Homo sapiens: one gene and its partner. The protein of the gene in region 1 interacts with the protein of each later gene in a pairwise test. Each region holds a gene or a part of one and is shown on either strand. Other genes may lie near its edges. The genes, in order: NR1D1 and APOA4.

The links.
Region 2: the proteins of NR1D1 (region 1) and APOA4 interact in binary tests that used the Homo sapiens proteins (3 or more experiments, as listed by UniProt).

Annotation. Positions count from the first base shown.
Region 1 is NC_000017.11:40,094,828-40,097,787, forward strand, and holds part of NR1D1 (nuclear receptor subfamily 1 group D member 1), read right to left. Parts: intron 2,577-2,960; coding exon 2,238-2,576; intron 1,953-2,237; coding exon 1,864-1,952; intron 1,761-1,863; coding exon 1,616-1,760; intron 1,261-1,615; coding exon 617-1,260; intron 294-616; coding exon 108-293; intron 1-107. UniProt on the Homo sapiens protein: Transcriptional repressor which coordinates circadian rhythm and metabolic pathways in a heme-dependent manner.
Region 2 is NC_000011.10:116,820,291-116,824,899, forward strand, and holds APOA4 (apolipoprotein A-IV precursor), read right to left. Parts: upstream 3,015-4,609; 5' UTR 2,902-3,014; coding exon 2,853-2,901; intron 2,496-2,852; coding exon 2,369-2,495; intron 1,592-2,368; coding exon 577-1,591; 3' UTR 410-576; downstream 1-409. UniProt on the Homo sapiens protein: May have a role in chylomicrons and VLDL secretion and catabolism. Required for efficient activation of lipoprotein lipase by ApoC-II; potent activator of LCAT. Apoa-IV is a major component of HDL and chylomicrons.

The DNA of each region.
Region 1 (2,960 bases):
GTGGAGGTTGCAGTGAGTGGAGATCGCACCATTGCACTCCAGCCTGGGCGACAAGCGAAACTCTGTCTCAAAAAAAACAAAAACCAGAAGCATAAACGGTCACTCACCTCAAAGGTGCCAGCCTTAAGCAGGGTGACTTGGTCATGCTGAGAAAGGTCACGGAAGCCCGGGATGTGTTTGGCAAACTCTACCACCTCCCGCACAGCGGGCGTGAAGCTCATGGAGAAATCCTCCCAGATCTCCTGCACCGTTCGCCCACTGCGTCCATGCGGGTACATGTTCATAGGACATGCCTGGGGGAGGAAAAGATTGAAGGAGGGGAGTGTCAGCCAGGCTGGGTCAGATGGACGCCCCGAGCAGAGCTGGACCCCAGATTCTGCCTGGGCTAGGGGCTGTGGCCCTGAAGGATGGGTCTTTCAGATAAAGTAGCAATTAGGTGCCAGGTGGAGATTAGGGATTCCCAGGCAGAGTCCAGACTGCAAGGCAAGACATTTTCTCCTGGGAAGATGCTATCCCCACACTCAGCCTCCAGGAACCCCCAGCTGCCCTACACTAAGTCCATTCTGCCAGGCCCCCCCAATCTTCTTAACGCACTCGCCCGCCCCCATGCCCTTACCAGCAGAACATTCTTTGAGTTGCCCTGCCGGGGACTGTTGGCAGGTGCCTTGCCTTCTGGGGCTGCATACACGTGGGTGGGGCATAGACGGTGCCCGTTGCTGTTGGACTGGTGGCAGCTGTGGTGTGCAGGGCCAGGAGGCCAGGTGGGAGGGTAGGAGGAGGGAGCCTGGCGCAGACCATTTAGGGCCTCGTTATGACGCTGGGCAGCCAAGGTGTTGTTGTCATTGGGGGCAGGTGGGCAGCCCTGATTTTCCCAGCGATGTGGGGTGGTGGCTGGAGGGCTACCTGATGCATGGTTGGCATTGAAGTTGCCAGGTGAGCTGCCCAGCTTGTCATGGGCGTAGGTGAAGATCTCTCGATGGGCCCGGGCCACCTGGGATATCACATCCTCCACTGTGGGCTCAGGGCTTGGGGATCTGGGAGGCGTCAGCTGTTGTGGAAACTGGGAGAAGCCCACCAGGGGTGAGGGGACCGGAGCAGGGGGTGGCGAGGGGCCCATGGGGCCTGGGGTGGGGTGCTGGGTGGGTGAAGTCTCCAGCGGGCACTGGCTGCTCAACTGGTTGTTGGCCAGGTTCATGGCACTCTGCATCTCAGCAAGCATCCGCTGCTTCTCTCGTTTGGGGATGCGCCCAAAACGCACAGCTGCAACAGGATGAGAACAGCATCAGGAAGTTCTCAACCATGCTCACGTGCTTCTCTTCCTTCCTTCCTCCTGAAAGGGCAAGGCCCTGAAGGCTTGGGGTTTCACATCAAAACTAAAACCAGCAAGTCCCCACCCATCAAGGGGGTTTCCCTAGGAGGGATTGCTGGTAGGAGGTGACCCGAGGGACCAATGGGATAGAAGTATATGTTGACCCAAGCAAATGAAGGATGGACATCCCCTGGCACATGTGATTCACAGTATGATGTGTCTCCATTTGTGACTTTTTTAAAGGGAAGGATTAATTCAGAAACTTTGGGCGGAAGAAGGGGGGAGGATGTGGGGATGCTGCCTCACCGTCTCGAGACATGCCCACAGAGAGACACTTCTTGAAGCGACATTGCTGGCAGCGGTTGCGATTGATGCGGACGATGGAGCAATTCTCATTCTTCAGACACCTTTTGTACTGGATGTTCTGCTGGATGCTCCGACGGAAAAAGCCCTGGAGGGCAGGGGTGGTTAGTGACCACCTCCATCATGGCTGGGCCTCTGTGTCCAGGGGGAGGGGGCCACCTGCCCCTGCCCTTACCCCCAGTCCGCCTCACCTTGCAGCCCTCGCAGGCGTGCACACCGTAGTGGAAGCCCGAGGCAACGTCCCCACACACTTTACACAGTAACACCATGCCATTCAGCTCTGTGGAAGAGACGGGCAGCAGGTGAGCAGGAGAGGCCAGGCTGAGTGGCCACAGGTGTGGAGGCTTTCTGGGCCGGAGATCCAGGGAGGGAAAAGCTAAGGAGGAACTCCAGTGTTGAGGGGCACTGGAGTGACAAAACTGGGCTGAAGAGGGGCTGGTGCCACTCTAGGAGAAATCCCTGAAGCCAGAATAGGTCCTGGCAAGACTGGTGTCACGTAAAAACCCATTCCCAATCTGGCCCTGGCCTGCTTCCCTTCCCCCGAATCAGCTGGAAAGGTACTCACTGGTGATGTTGCTGGTGCTCTTGCTGGGGGACACTCGGCTGCTGTCCTCCATGGCCACTTGTAGACTCCCAGGGGGGCTCCCATTATAGAAGGAGGAGGAGGATGACGACGAGGAAGATGAGGAAGAAGGGGAGCCGTCATCACTCAGGCTGGGTGGAATGCTCCCAAAGGAGCGAGCCGGGTCTTGGGTGAGGGAGCCAGTGGGGGATGGTGGGAAGTAGGTGGGACAGCCTTGGGTCAGGGACTGGAAGCTGCCATTGGAGTTGTCACTATAGAGGGATTCAGGGCTGGTGCGGCTTGGGGAGGAGCCACTGGAGCCAATGTAGGTGATGACGCCACCTGGAGAGAGAACAAAAGGAAAGGGGGTGTCAGCCGCCATGTCTCCGGACCTAGGGTGCCACTGTGCTCATCCCCACCTGTCTGCCCAAAACATTGCTGGCCACTCAGTTCACCATGTGGAGCCCCTAATCTTGGAGTTAATAAGCAATTCCCCAACACACAGTAGACATGGCATGGCCAAGCAACACCTACGACCCTTTGCAGGCCACCTTCAGCTTCTGCTTTCAGTATGAGGCATGACCCCTGTGGCATCTCGCATATGTGCCCCCCTTCCTTAGTTGCCTTCCTTGGGAATATCGACTGCAGCTAATGACTTAGTTGTCAGTTGAAGATCTGGGGATGGGATGGGCAGCTGAGCACCATTCAAAGTGCCCAGTCCTCCAA
Region 2 (4,609 bases), on another chromosome or scaffold:
CCCCCAGTGTACTGTGAGCCCCCCAGGGCCAGGGACCCTGTTCTGCTCGCCTCCAGGTGTCCCCCTCAGTGTGAGGCAGAGTCGGGCACATGGCTGCACAAAAGCTGTTTGCTGGTTGTCCGGTGCCTAGAATAATGACTGGCGCATCGGAGGCATTCAATGCATATTTGTTGGCTAAATGAATATAAGTAGGTTGCATATTTTGTCTTGGGATAATGTGTGACATCTTTTTCTGCCTCCCCTTAGAGGACTCCCCATGTACTCGCCTCCAGTCCACCAGGCCCTTACCTCTCCTGCAGTCTCATCTCCCCAATCCTGGGTGTCTCCTGCCAGGCCGCTGCTAAGCTCTGCCCAGTCATGGTTACCTCCCCACCTCCCCAGCTGCAAGGAGGATTCATCCGGCAACCAGTTGAGGCTAGATTCTCAGCAGCTTTATTGAATATTGAGAGGTGGTCTCACCTCCCACTGGACATGTGTCCTCAAGTTCATACCAGAACTTCTTTGGGACAGACAGACAGACAGGTGGCAGGGCAGGGCAGGTGTCCACGAGGGTGGGGCCAGTGCACCAGGGGCAGCTCAGCTCTCCAAAGGGGCCAGCATCTGCACCTGCTCCTGCTGCTGCTCCTGCTGCTGTTCCTGCTGTTGCTCCAGCTCAGGGAGGGAGAGAGTCTTGTCCTGGCTCTCTTTCTCCTTGAAGGTGCTGAAGAAGGAGTTGACCTTGTCCCTCAGGTCCTTCTCCAGGAAGCTCAAGTGGCCTTCCACGTCCCCCGCATGGGGGCCCAGTTTCTGCCTGAGCTGTTCCATCTGCTGCACCAGGGCTTTGTTGAAGTTTTCCCCGTAGGGCTCCACCCGGCGTCGGAACTCCTCCACCTGCTGGTCCAGGTGCCCACCCAGCTCTGCCAGTGACTTCTGCAGCCCCTCGGTGTTGCCCCTCAGGTTGCCACGCACGTCCTCGGCCAAGGGCGCCAGCCTCTGCCGCAGCTCCTCGGCACTGGCCGAGATCCTGGCCTTGAGCTCCTCGGCGTTCTTCTTCATCTGGAAGGTCAGGCCCTCAAGCTGGTGGTTGAGCTTCTCCTGCGTGTCCTGAGCATAGGGAGCCAGGCTGCGGCGCAGCTCCTCCACGGTCTGGTCAATCTTGACTTTGAATTCGTCAGCGTAGGGCGTAAGGCGTCCCTTGAGCTCCTCCACGTTCTGGTCGATCTTGGCCTTGAGCTCGTCGGCGTGGGGCCTCAGCGAGGCCTGCAGGCTGTCGGCGTTCTCCCGCAGCACTCTCTCCATGCGCTGTGCGTAGGGGGTCAGCTGGCGCCGCAGCTGCTCGGCCTGCGTGCTGACCTGGGTGCGCAGCTGGTCCGCGTAGGGCTCCAGGCGCTGCTGAAGCTCTCGCAGGTTGTCCCCGATCTTCTGGCTCACCTCATTGGCATGGGGCAGCAGCCGGGCCCTCAGCTCCTCCAGCTCCTTCCCAATCTCCTCCTTCAGTTTCTCCGAGTCCTTGGCCAGGCGTTCATGCAGCTCGGTGGCAAAGGGCACCAGCTTCTTCTGCAGGTCACCTGCGTAAGTGTTCACTTCTCCAAGTTTGTCCTGGAAGAGGGCACTGTGGGGAAGGGCACAAGGAGGCCACGTTACATTTGGCATTTACACGGCAAGACTTTGTCTGCTTGTATACCACTCGCCTTATGCACACGTGCTAGGACAGGTGAGTGCTCAGAGGTACCGAGTTCACCCTCCCTATGGTGGTGCAGATTGGAGAGGATGGGTGTCACAGACTAAGTTACGATGCTGAATTTCTATCTCAGGATCTCCCACATAGTTTGTCTCAGAATCTACCCACCATGTCACCTCCAGCAGTTTGCTTTCCCCTCCTTGTCTGCAGAGGGTGGGACTTTGAGGTCCTTCCCAGAGGGAGTGTTCTGGGCCATAGGATCACATTGTGTAACACAATGTTGTCTTCTTGACCTCTGCTGGGGTCTTCCAGTGGCACAAGGTGCTGCTTTCCTTGCCTGTGCCCAGGGGCCTCCCAAATATTCCCACCTCCCTCCCCTTGATTCCACTGGGGCCTGTCTTTCTGAAACGTATTAGAAATCAGCTCACGTGACATTTTCCTCCCTCCCTCTCTTCCATGAGCCTGAATGATAGGATGTGGCCATTTGTCAAACTCTAGAACGTCAAAGCAAAAGGACATGGCAGGGATTATTCGGTCCAAACTTCCGGTTTACATATGTGGATCCTAGGTTCAGAGGCCCGGCCAGTTAGTGGCAGGGCAGTGGGTATCCTAAGCTCAGGGCTCCTGTCTCTAAGCTCAACCCTTGCCAGTACATTGCATGGCCTTTAAGAATTCCCCGTCACCACCGCACACTGTAGTCCCTCTTACTTGAGTTGCTGGGTGAGTTCAGATTTCTGGAGATGTTCCACGGCCTCCTTGGCATTGTTGCTCAGCTGGCTGAAGTAGTCCCACATCACCGTGGCCACCTGGTCAGCACTGACCTCAGCCCTGGCTCCTGGGTGGTAACAGAGAGCAATTCATGAGGCCCCGTCTCCTGTGTGGCCCCTCTGCTCCAGCTCTGAGCTGCAGACTGGATGATGGTGGGGGTGCCTCAACCTGCCATTTTCCCTGTCTGAGCTTAGCTTTTTGGAAGCCACAGGGATATGTGAAACTGGTATAGCACCAATGCCAATGGGCCCACCACTGGGACTGGGCCAGCTCTCCTGTGAGCCACTTGGCAGCCAGGCAGACCTCATGTCCAGCTGGGGGCTGATGGGCACTCAGAAGTGTCCTTTTGCTTTGGCTCAGCCTCCATCCTGCACTACTCAGAGCAGCAGCCCAGGAGTGCCATCCAAAGACAGCTTCTACTCACCGGCGACAGCCACCAGGGCCAGGGTCAGGACCACGGCCTTCAGGAACATCCTGAGCTGCTTGCTGGGCTGGAGGAGTTTCTTGCCACACTGGATCCTCCCTACAATCAGGGGAGCTGACAGAGAGGTCCTCAGGAGAGCTCACCTGCGCTGCAGTGGGAACTGACTGAAGCTCAGAGCCAGCCAGACATTTAAACTCTCTCCCTATCGCCACCCCCCTGGCTGCCCTCCCCTCCTCCTTCCTCAGTGTGACTCCACGCTGGAAGGTGACACATTCCCAAGAGGCCTCTTGGACTTTTGTGACCCTGAGACTACGTGGAAGCTGACAGCAGATCAGGGCTCAGGCGATAGTTAGAAGTGGTGGCTGTTCCGTGCGTGGGCACCCCCACCCCCACCCCACCAACCTCAGCATGGAAGGGAGGAGGGGAACGGAAAACAGTAGGAGAAACACCTCAGGGAGCCCATGAGCCCGGGACTGATGCCTCGAGGCCCTGCTGGCGGCTCTGGGTTTGTGCCGGGCTCATGGGGGGCAAAGTCCACATCTCCTCTGTCTACCCCAGTGAAGACAGGTCCCCCCAGTCTCCACATCCGCCACTAATGCTGACTCCATCTCAGAGCACCAGACACTGGAGTGGGACCATCCAGGACTGCAGACAGCATAGTGAGCTAAAATCTAGGTCTCTTGTCAAGGTACACCCAAGAGGAGGGGGCCCTGGAGAGCCTTTGGGCAGATGGGTGTGGGAGACAGGGCCTTGTCCTGAAAGGGTTAATTGTAGAGTGCTTCATGTCCCACTCCCATGCTGTGCCTCCTTGGTCTAGTTATTCAAAGCCCTGAGCTTCAGTTTCTCCTCTGAACAATGGGATGGTTCAGTACATTAAAGAAGACATTGCTTGCGAAGTGGGTAGTACGGTCATCTCTCAGTCTCCATGGGAAATTGATTCCAGGACCCTCTGCAGATACCAAAATCCATGGATGTTCAAGTCCTTGATATAAAATGGCATAGTATTTGCATATAACCTAAGCACAGCCTCCCACATACTTTAAATCTCTAGATTACTTATAATACCTAATACGACGGAAATGCTGTGTGAATGGTTGTTATACTGTATTGTTTAGGAGGTAATCACCAAAAAAGTCTGTATATGTTTAGTACAGGTGCAATTTTTTTTTTTTTTGAGATGGAGTCTTACTCTGTCACCCAGGCTGGAGTGCAGTGGCACGATCTTAGCTCACTGCAATCTCTGCCCCCCAGGTTCAAGTGATTCTCCTGCCTCAGCCTCCTGAGTAGCTGGGATTACAGGCACCCACCACCACGCCCAGCTAATTTGTGTATTTACAGCAGAGACGGGGTTTCACCATGTTGCTCAGGCTGGTCTCCAACTCCTGGCCTCAAGCAATCCTCCCATGTGGGCCTCCCAAAGTGCTGGGCTTATAGGCGTGAGCCACTGCGCCCTGCCCAGATGCAATTTTTTTAAAACATTGTTTTTAATGGAGATGGGGTGTCGCTATGTTGCTCAGGCTGGTCTCCAACTCCTGGCCTTAAGTGATCCTCCAATCTCTGCCTCCTAAAATGCTGGGCTTACAGGCATGAGCCACTGCACCCGGCCCACAGATGCAATTTAAAAAAAAAAATATATATATATATATATATATATTTTTTTTTTTTTTTTTTTTTTTGAGATGGAGTCTTGCTCTGTCACCCAGGCTGGAGTGCAGTGGCACGATCTCGGCTCACTGCAAGCTCTGCCTCCCGGGTTC